2 separate regions of the Homo sapiens genome follow, and region 1 is linked to region 2. The links come from fine-mapping of genetic effects on gene expression. A gene starts in region 2. The other region holds a variant in brackets. All regions are shown on one strand. Distances are between the middles of the regions.

The links.
Region 1: its variant is fine-mapped to the expression of DNAJC1 in whole blood (INTERVAL, PIP above 0.99).

The regions. Positions count from the first base shown.
Region 1 is chr10:22,945,723-22,951,111 of GRCh38, reverse strand. It overlaps ARMC3 (armadillo repeat containing 3), which reads right to left. Exons shown (of 19, transcript NM_173081.5): 3 at 4,851-4,968. Among named protein-coding and RNA genes, the nearest start is that of ARMC3, 20 kb to the right of the region's middle. The variant TA/A (reference allele first, on the strand shown) is at 3,379.
Region 2 is chr10:22,001,549-22,006,937 of GRCh38, reverse strand. It overlaps DNAJC1 (DnaJ heat shock protein family (Hsp40) member C1), which reads left to right and starts at 3,208. Exons shown (of 12, transcript NM_022365.4): 1 at 3,208-3,725. The coding sequence starts at 3,504. RefSeq lists enhancers at 2,955-3,084, 3,115-3,164, 3,044-3,544 and a silencer at 3,205-3,574.

The DNA of each region.
Region 1 (5,389 bases), 940 kb before region 2:
CAAACAATTAGCTGGGTGTAGTGGCGGGCGCCTGTAGTCCCAGCTACTTGGGAGGCTGAGGCAGGAGAATGGCGTGAAGCCGGGAGGCGGAGCTTGCAGTGAGCCGAGATTGCGCCACTGCACTCCAGCCTGGGTGACAGAGCAAGACTCTGTCTCAAAAAAAAAAAAAAAAAGATTTTTCACAGTCTTTTGATTAACTGATCCCTTTATCATTATAAAATGACCTTCTTTATCTCTGGTACTACTCTTTTCTCTGTTTACTTTTATAATATTAATATTTCTGTTACTAATGCTTGGGCTTTCTTTTGATTCATGCTAGCATGACATATCTGTTGTCATCCTTTTGCGTTATTTTTGTCTTTCTATTCTAAATGCACTTCTTGAAGGTGGCATGTGGTTTACTCTTGCTTTTTATCCAATATACCAATTTCTCCCTGATAATCAAGGTATTTAGGACATTTATATTTAATTTGATTTTTGATATGGTTAGATTTAAATCCACCATCTCGTTTTTTACATGCCCCATTATTCCATGTTTTCTTTTTTCTTCATATTCAGCCTTCTTTTCTATGTATTCTGTGAATATTACTGATTCCATTTTATTTCTTTCATTGGCTTATTTAATATTATCCTTTATTTTGTTATTTTAGTGGTTGCATTAGGGTTGCAGTATACATCTTTAACTTAACACAGTCTACTTTGAAGTGGTATTATGCCACTTCACATATGAGATCCTAACAATAGTATACTTCCATTTTTTCCCTTTCTATGTTGGGGCTGTTGTTGCCATATATTTTATTTATACATATGTTTCAAGTTGCACAATATATGATTATTTTTGTTTAATAAATTTGCTTTTGAAGTGATTCAAATAACAAAACATATATGTTGCCATTTCTAGCACTCTGTATTCTTTTTTGTAGATCCATGTTTCCATCTAGTGTTAGTTTCCTTCTGCCTAAAAGGCCTCTTTTTATTATAAGTAATAGTGTAGATCTGCTGGAAATAAATTATTTTAGCTTTTTATATTTGGAAAAAAAACATTATTTCACCTACGTTTTTGAAAGACCTTTTTTCTGGATATGTAATTCTGTGTTGAAAGTTTTTATTTTTCTTTTATTCTTTTAAGATTGTTGCTCTACAGACTTCTCACTTGCATAACTTCTGATGATAAATCATCCTTATTTATAATTTGTTATTATCTACTGTCATCCTTATCTTTATTTGAATGTAACATGTTTTTACTGATTCTGGCTTCTTTTAAGATTTTCTCTTTATCACTGATTTTAAGCAATTTGATTATAATGTACTATGGCATGGTTTATTTCATATTCTTTGCACTTGGGTTTTGACAAACTTTTTTGGATCCATGGACTTAGAGTTTTCATCAGATTTAGGGAAAGTTTGGCCATTATTTCTTCAAACGCTTTTTCTGTCCCTGTCTCCCTTTTTCAGAGACTCCAATTACACATATATTGGACACTTGAATTTTTCTCATACCTCATTGAATCTCTGTTCATCTTTTTAAAATCTCTTTTCACTGTCCTTCATTTTGGACAGGTTGTGTTACTATGTATTTAAGTTCATTAATCTTTTCTTCTGCAATGTCCAAACTGCATTAATCAAAGCCTATGTGTTTTTCATTTCAGACATTGAAGTTTTCATCTCTAGAAGTTGTATTTGGATCTGTCTTATAGCTTCCATGTTTTCACTTTCTAAACATATAGAATACAGTTGTAATTAATCTTTTAATGTCTTTTCCTGCTAATTCTAACATCTAGGTCAATTTGATTTACTCATTGATATATATCTTATTATGCGTTTTTTCTGCTTTTTTTCATGCCTGGTAATTTTTTTATTGGATGCAAGATATTGTGAATTTTACCTTCTTGGGCAATGGATATTTCTGTATTCTTAAGATTTTTTTCAGGGACAAATTAAGTTACTTGGAAACAACTTGATCCTTTCAAGTCTTGCTTTTAATATTTACTAGGTGGTACTAGAACAGTGCACAATCTAGGACTAATTATTTCTCATACTGAGGCAAGACTCCTCTGTGTATTCTACACAATGCTCCATGAATTCTGAAGTTTCTGCCTGGCTGATGGAAACAGGCATTACTCCTAGCCGTATGTGAGCACCAGGCACTGTTACCCCAATCCTTTGGGTGCCTCTTGTTCCAACTATTACCCTCACATGTACATGCTGTTCACTACTCTTCTAAATACAAGAATGAGACCCTTTACAGAGCTCCTGAGTTCTCCTTCTGTGAAACTCATTCCTCTCCTTTGCTCTGTCCTGAAAACTCTGAATACCTTTATTTCTCTGGACTTTCAGGTTTGTCTTCTTAACTCAGAGAATCCACCAGGTTACCTTTTCCAGTGCTATGGCCAAAAAGCTCTCTAAAGTCAAAAATCTGAGGCAATCATAGGGTTTACTTCCCTTGTTTCCCGTCTCTCAGTGGTCACTGCCCTTTATTGTCTGATGTTGATGGTCTTGTCAACTGTTATTTCATATATCTCGTTTATTTTCTTCATTGTTTCCACCAATAGAGTAAGTCTACTCTACTTTCACATATTGGGTCTGTTTCATTCATTGTTACAGGCAGTAGAGTGGTCCGTCATGGCCAGAAACCAAAGTCCTATCATTTTTTTTTTAATTTTAGAAAATACTACTAGTATAAAACATCAGACTTAAAATTATTTCTGTATTGATTTCATATGAAATACATGCCTATTTCTTCATGTCATGCAAAAAGAGATAACACATAATTAGATACACGTGACAGCCAGATGATGTATAATGACTCCGTAAGACTGAATGGGATTCATGCTGCCATAGATGCACAATCCAATATCTCCCTGAAATTTGACCCAGGATTCTACACCATCCACTCAAAAAGATATAGTAACTTCCAGAAACACTCTGGTTTACATCTGGATTCCCAATGATGACCTGAGTGACAAAGCAAGGTGAGTATTATACCCTTTGCTAATTGAATGATTTGTTGTTCTCTCATTCAGTTTCCAACACAATATGTCAAGTATCATTTATTTAAAACAAAATTGTCCCTATCTTAGTTTGAAATGGTTTATTAAAAAAAACCAGTTTAGTTACACTAAACTCTCAATTAAATTAATATTCTCAATTAAAATGTCATGCAACATAATAAAAGTCTAATCATTTGTAATAATATGAAGACTAAAATATAGGCATCTTGTATGTTTTTAAATCCTCTATGAATAAACCTTTCAGTAGAACCTGATGTGTAATATTTATAATTTTTAAATGTTTTATGTTTTACAACAATGTTAGTTTTACAGAAAAGTTACAAAGACAGTACAAAGACTTTGCACATACCTCAGACCCAGTTTCCCC[TA/A]TTATTAACATTTGATATTAGTATGGTACATTTTTTACAGTTAATGAACTAATATGAAGACACTGTTATTAACAAAAGTACTTAGTTATTCGGATTTCCTTAGTTTTAACCTAATATCTTCTTTCTGTCCCAGGATCCTATGTCATTACTCATTATGCCTCCATTATGTGAATTTCTCAAACTTGCTTGTTGTAGATAGCCATGACAGTTTTGAGGAGCATTGGCTAGGTATTTTGTACCTGAACCGGGATTTGTCTGATTTTAAAAATCATTATTAAACTGGGGTTATAGATTTTTAAGAAAAATAACACAGAAATAAAGTGTCATTTTCATCACATCATATCAAGAGCACCTAATATTGATAGGACTTATCACAGTTGGTGGTTTGTTTTCTGTTTTTTTTTTTTGGTTGGTTGGTTTGTTTTTTGAGACAGGGTCTCTCTCTGCTGCCCAGGCTGGAGTGCAGTGGCACAGTCTCAGCTCACTGCAACCTCTGCCTCCCAGGGTCAAGCAGTCCTCCCACCTCAGCCTCCCAAATAGCTGGGACTACAGACATGTGCCATCATACCTGGCTAATGTTTCTATTTTTTGTAGGGGTGGGGTTTTGCCATGTTGCCAAGGCTGGTCTTGAACTCCTGGGCTCAAGTGATCCTCCCACCTCAGCCTCCCGAGTAGCTGGGACTAAAAGCATGCACCACTACACATGGCTAGTTTTTGTATATATATATTTTTATATATAGAGATGGGGCTTTGCCACATTGCCAAGGCTGGTCTCAAACTCCTGGGCTCAAGTGATCCACCCACCTTGGCCTCCCGAAGTGCTGAGATTACAGGCATTAGCCACCATGCCCAGATGTGTGGTGTTGATTTTGATCACCTAGCTGCGGTAGTGTTTGTCAGGTTTATCCATTGTAAGCTTATTTTCCCCATTTCTACATTGTACTCTTTGGAAATAAGTCACTCTGTACCTCTCCCACTCAAAGAGTCGGAAGTTACATTTCACCTCCTTGAAGTCAAGAGTGTCTACATAAACTATTAGGAATTCTTCTGCATAGGAGATTTGTCTCTTCTCTTCCATTTATTCACCCATTTTATTTATATCAGTATGGACTCATGGATACTTATTTTCCACTTGGATGATAAGCCAATACTGCTTTACTTTGTTGTTCTAATTGTTCCAGCCTTGACTATTGGGAGTTCTTTTAGCTTCTGTGACATTTACAATTTCTAAAACTACAATGAAACTTTCAGAATGACTGTTCTACCCAGTGACTAAATTACTCCTTAAGATTAAGCTAGGAACTCAGGAAGAGAGATTGCTCTTAGGTAATGCATTAAATAATATCCTGGTTGTCTGAAATAATTCATCCGACAGCAAGTAAGTTAAAGACTAGGAAGAAAAGTGCCCAAGAGGTAGTAAATATTTTAAGAAATTAATGAAACAGAAAGATAAACTGAAAAAAATCCAAACCTTTTAAAGCAAATTTATAAATGGCTTCACATGCTTTAGCCAAAATTTCCTCTTCTGGAGAATTAAGCATTAACACCACAGTTGCTGCTTTTTTGCTTTCAATCATTAATGGGTCAAACTGAAAGGCAGAAAGAAAACTATCAGTTTCACATATGAGCTTTAAAAATCACATTAAAAATGAATGGGTCTTAAAACTTAAAGAAAATGTAATCTTGCAAAAAGGATGTGGTCACTGCCCAATAAGTGCACTGCAAAGTTTTTCATTAAAAATACATCAACCGCTAGAGAAACAATTGTCAGCATTGGAATGCCTGGGGTATGGTGGGAAGAGCCAAATGTTTTGGAATCTGACAGGTCTAGTTTCTCAATTTAGCCATGTGGAATCAAATGAATTATGCTACTAGAATGTCAATTTCTTTTTCTGTTTGATGAGGATAATAGTACCTATCTCAAAGGTACTATCTCAAAGAAACAAGGAAAGGAGTAGAGGTCATGTATGTAAAGCACTTAGCACGTCATCTGGCACATGACAGATGTTT
Region 2 (5,389 bases):
CTTGTCTTTTTACTTTGTTGATAATATTGTTTGCAGCATACGTTTAATTTCTGTGCAGTCCAATTTATCTATTTTTTTTCTTCTGTCATTTATGTTTCTGTGTCATATATAAGAAACCACTGGCTAACCCAAGGTCACTAAGATTTACTCCCTTTTTTTCTTACAAGAGTTTGGTAGCATTAACTCATACATTGAGGTCTAGGATTCATTTTGAGATATTTTTTTCATCTGTGGTTTTATGTCTTTCATTACTTTTGTAAAATTCTTGGCTATTATATCTTCAAATATTGCTTCTGCTTCATTCTCTGTCTCCTCTTTTTCTAAGGCTCCAGTTATACCTATCCTGGGTTTATTCATTGTACACATGCCTATTAAGCTGTGTTCTATTTTTTCCATTTGTTTTTCTCTCTGTGCTTGAGTTTAGGTATTTTTTCTTGCTCAGTCTCCAAATTCACTAACCCTCTGTTCTGCTGTGTCCAGGTTGCTATTAAACTGATCCATTGCAATATTCCTTTCAGAAATTACATTTTTCAGTTAAATATTTTCCATTGATTCTTTTTTATGGATTTTAATACTCTTAAAATTCTGCATATTTTAATCCATCTTGTTCATGTTTTCTTCTATTTTATAACCTATGGCTTTATTTCATAATAGTTATTTTAAAGTTCTTATCTAAACTTCAATAGTTGGCTTATCTGTGGATCTTCTATTATTTTTTTTTTCTTGATTGTTGGTCAAATTTTCCTGCTCTTCTCACACCTCATAATTTTTTTTTACAAATGTTAGACTTTTATATTAAAGATCTATAGACAATATAGATGATGTTATTTTCTTCTAGGGATAAACATAGACAAATAGGATGATGTTCTGATTATCTCTGTCTAATCAAGGATGAGCTGGGTTGGGATTGGGGTGCGGTTTCAGTAAGATAGTTCTCTTGTGGTTTCTCTCTCTTCTTCATGTGTGATTCCTCTGGGCTTTTGATCAAGAGCCTGGACAGCTGCTGTTTCCTCTGCTCTGAGATTCAGTTCTGCCTTTGAGAGGTTTTAAACGTAGATCTTCAGCCTCCTTCTCATACAACTTCAAAAATAGTGTAAATGTCTTGAAGGGGGAGAATGCTTGTGTATTTGAGGCAGGATCCTTCTAAGCAGAATTAGCTTTCTATGCAGTAGAATATGGGGTAATTTTACTCTGCCTATCACGCCCAGCTGCTCAGCCTCCTGCACCACCCCAGAACTCAGCGAATGTCCTGTGGGAAAACTGGCTATATGTTTGGGGCTCCTCTATATTTCCAATCCATTTCACAGCTCACATGATGGTTAAACATCTCACTGGTTTCTCTTTTTCTGTGTAAACTCCCTCTGCCCAGGCCAAGCTGGATGAGTCTATGCCCAGAATTAGTACATGTCACCAGGGAAGAAAACAGTGGATACTGTCACTCCCTTAGTTCAGACCTCAGCAAAAGATTTATTCAATTGCACTGTAATTTTTGGGACAATGACTGAATAGGTAAAGAGGCCAAGCTAGAAGTCTAAATATGAATATCACTGTGGTCTTTGCAGGAACCTGGACAAGCAAGAAGATCATCTCAGGGTGGACAAGTGTCATTGGAGCTGGGCAGCATGAATTTTTGAGTAATACCTTATGTCCATGAGAAGTATTATTAATAGAATCCAATTCTGTTTCAGCATGGCCTTAGAAAGAGGATGGGCTATCTTTAGATGGAGTAAGTCCCCGAGGTTCTCAGACAACATAAAGGTAAAACTCAAAAGGGAAATACTAGGCTGTCTGCTACAAGATCGGGGTAAGAATCCCAGATTTGTGGCAATATGGCACCAGTTTCAAAGGTTTTATTGCACTTAATCTAATGATCAAATTAGGAGAAAAGATGAATGTTACTATAATATGTAAAAGTAGTGCTTAAGATCATTAATTTCATCTTATTTCGATGTTTTGTTCATTGAATAAACAGTAACCTAATTTAGGGACTTGGTAAAGATGACGTTCACTTTAAGAAAACTGATATAACCAAAAATAAACTAGGCTGGGGGTGGTGGCTCATGCCTGTAATCCCAGCAGTTTGGGAGGCTGAGGTGGGTAGATCACATCATGTGAGGTCAGGAGTTTGAGACCAATCTGGCCTACACGGTGAAACCCCGTCTCTACTAAAAATACAAAAAATTAGCCAGGCATGGTGGCAGGAGTCTGTAATCCTAGCTACTCGGGAGGCTGAGCCAGGAGAATTGCTTGAACGTGGGAGGCAGAGGTTGCAGTGAGCCGAGATGGTGTCATTGCACTCCAGCCTGTGCAACAAGAGCAAAACTCCGTCTCTAAATAAATAAATAAATAAACTAAAAATCTGTGGTAGGGGGAATGGTGGTAGGGAGGTAGTCACAGGATTCAGTTCAACTAATTGAGTGCTCTCATGTGCTATGCATTGTGCTAAGCACACAATAATAAAGTCCACACAAGAGAATTGTGGTGGAGAAAATAACTTGAAAAGAGCTTGAACAGAAGCAATGCAAGACTAGAAGGTGAGACATTGTTATGGGAGAGGAGGTTTTTAGCCTGTCTTTTAAAACAGAAACATCTCAATTGAGGTCTGTTTTCAAAGGAACCCCAACTGGAGGTGGGCTAAGGTGGATAAACTACATTTCTCCTCCAACTATGATTGAGTCACCATTATTAACTGTTAATTCTACCAGGTCATTTTATGGTATTATGCCTGTAAATCTTAATTCATAATTAGAAGTATACTTTTTGTTTTGGTTTCAATTCCTTTTCTGCTCTACCTCTCTCTACTTACTAGATTTGCCCCTTTTAGAACCTGGTTCAACTTGTCCTGTCTTCTTTGCTGATGGACTAATTAAATGCATGGAAGCCATAATCAATTAATCAGGCTTCAAATATGCTTTTAGTGTTCGATAGCTAGGGGAGAGGAAGACAGTAGCTATTTCAGGGGAAGTCCACGTGGGGCGTTCCAGATGGACGCGAGATGGCTATAACCGTCCCTGTCTCTCAGCCCATGTGGGCGCAGGTACAGCTGCTCCGTGCGCGCCAGTGATTGAGAGGCATTTCACCCAGGCCCAGATCTGGGGCGCCAGGCGTCCAGGCTTCCGGCCACGCCCCCTTCCCGCGGTTGCTAGGAGACATGATGTCACCGGAAGCGAGGCCTGGGATAGGCTGAGGCGAAGGGAAGCCTCACCCACTGTGCAGCCCAGGCGCCGGGCGCTGCCTCTACAGCTGTGTGTAGGCCTGGGGGCGAGGGTCTTCGGAACGTAGCGCTGGCTGCGGCCCCGCCCGCCTACCCACCCGCCCGTCCGGCAGCCGGCTCCCGCCGCCTCCGCGCTCTGTCTGGGGCCAGCCACCTGGCGGGCCGCTCCGGTGCGCCTGCCCGCGCTTTTCACTGACAGGCGCTGTTCCCCACAGCCAGCGCCGCCCGCCACGTCCCAGCTCTCGGCCAACGGAGCTGCGCGGCGGGTGACCTTTCCGAGCCCAGCGCGATGACGGCTCCTTGCTCCCAGCCGGCGCAGCTTCCTGGACGCCGCCAGCTCGGGCTGGTGCCGTTCCCGCCGCCGCCGCCGCGGACGCCGCTGCTGTGGCTGCTGCTGCTGCTGCTGGCCGCCGTGGCGCCGGCGCGCGGCTGGGAGAGCGGAGACCTGGAGTTGTTTGACTTAGTGGAGGAGGTGCAGCTCAACTTCTACCAGTTCCTCGGGGTGCAGCAGGTAAGCAAGGAGGCGCGCGGGGCCGGGCGGAGAGGGGCCAGGGCAGGCGTCAGGCGACCCGGTTCCTCAGAGACAGCCGGACACGTAGGGCAGGGCTTGGTCACCCCGGGCTCTGGCTGCCCTCAGCTCGGGTCACCGGGGTCCTCAGCCTTGGAAGGACGTGTCCGTCTTCCCCAGATCTTTACTCCTGCTTCAACTTTTCTAGTCCCAGCCCCAGTGACAGGCTGGACGGCGCCACTAGCCTAGGGTGGCGATGCCTTCTCTCTGCTCCGGCGTTCTGGGGAAGAGCCTTCCCCCTCCAGCTGTGCTGGAGGAAGAACGAAGAGTGGTGTGGGTAGACTTTTTTTTTTTTTTAATTTAACACCTACCTTTTGCCTTCCTGTCCCCCTGAATGTGAGAAAGAGCAGCCGCTTCTCACCCTAAACTGTCATCTTCCACCGATACTTACCTCATCCTTATTCTTATTTCAGCTGCCTCCCCTCCTCTTCCCTTCTGGGAAAGTAGGAATGCACTGTGGCCAGTGTCTGTGTTGCAAAAGTTTTTCTTACTTTGTACTTCGTCATCTTTTTAGCCTGTTAGGTAGATGTTTGTTTCGCTTTCGCAGTTTAGAAATCTGGAGGAATTTGAAGCGTCTAACCAGGTTGGAGGTGTTAAGTTTTTTGAGCAGCAAAGGACTTGGGATGCGATTGGAAGAGAAGCCCCCGGTCAGTAATGTAGGAATGGGTTTTTTTTTCCCCTTTTCCTTTTGTTTCATTTCGTTTTCTTCTATAGCTTAAGACATTAACTTGTAAAATCCATTTGTTGCTTTTTAGTTCTACCATTGAGGGTGGTTGAGTGAGGGTAGATATCCAGTCTCTACCTGAAGCCTTGTGCGAAGGAGAAGATAACATTTCGCTGATTTCAGGCTTATGGGGTGAAAAATGTACACTTCACACGATCTGATTGAGCCCTTCGTACAATGCTTTGAATAGTTATGGGAGTAAAAAATTAATGTTTACGATAGTTGCCATTCAAGGCACACTTCACATGACTAGATATGAAATGCACATCCCCTTCCCCCATAGGTTATCATAAATGTGGGTGAACTATTGAACTTTTACTGAATTTTAATTTTCAGACATTGCATTTTCATTCCATCAGTGAATATAAAATTGCTGGGTTGCCAGGGTACCATGAGTGAAACAATTTTTTATTTTTGTAAGAGTTATAAAGTATAGGCATTTCACACTTCAGATTCATATGTGCAAGCAACTTTGTAATAACTATATTTATGATCTGTTGCCTGGTGCCCCTCCCTGCTTATAGATACACTATATATCTCATTTTCAAAGCAAATGATGGAGTATGTGTAAAAATAATTAGTGAAGCTCTGATGACTTTTAAGAACTACTTTAATACTGGGAATAATTAGAATTTATCATTGATTACATTCTGTACGTAAAGAGAGTCTTAAACATAATCTATCCAGAAATCTTGAAGATCCAGTTATTCATGAAAAATTAAGTGCCTTTAAGAGAACAGAAATTTAGTAGCAGTTTAAAATTTAGATCATGTAATCTAGCTTTGCATGTGAACACTCATAGAATTTTCATTTATAATTTCATGTAACTTGATTTGCATAGTTAATTAGGCAGTGTGAACAACCAGAGCACTTGACTCTCTGG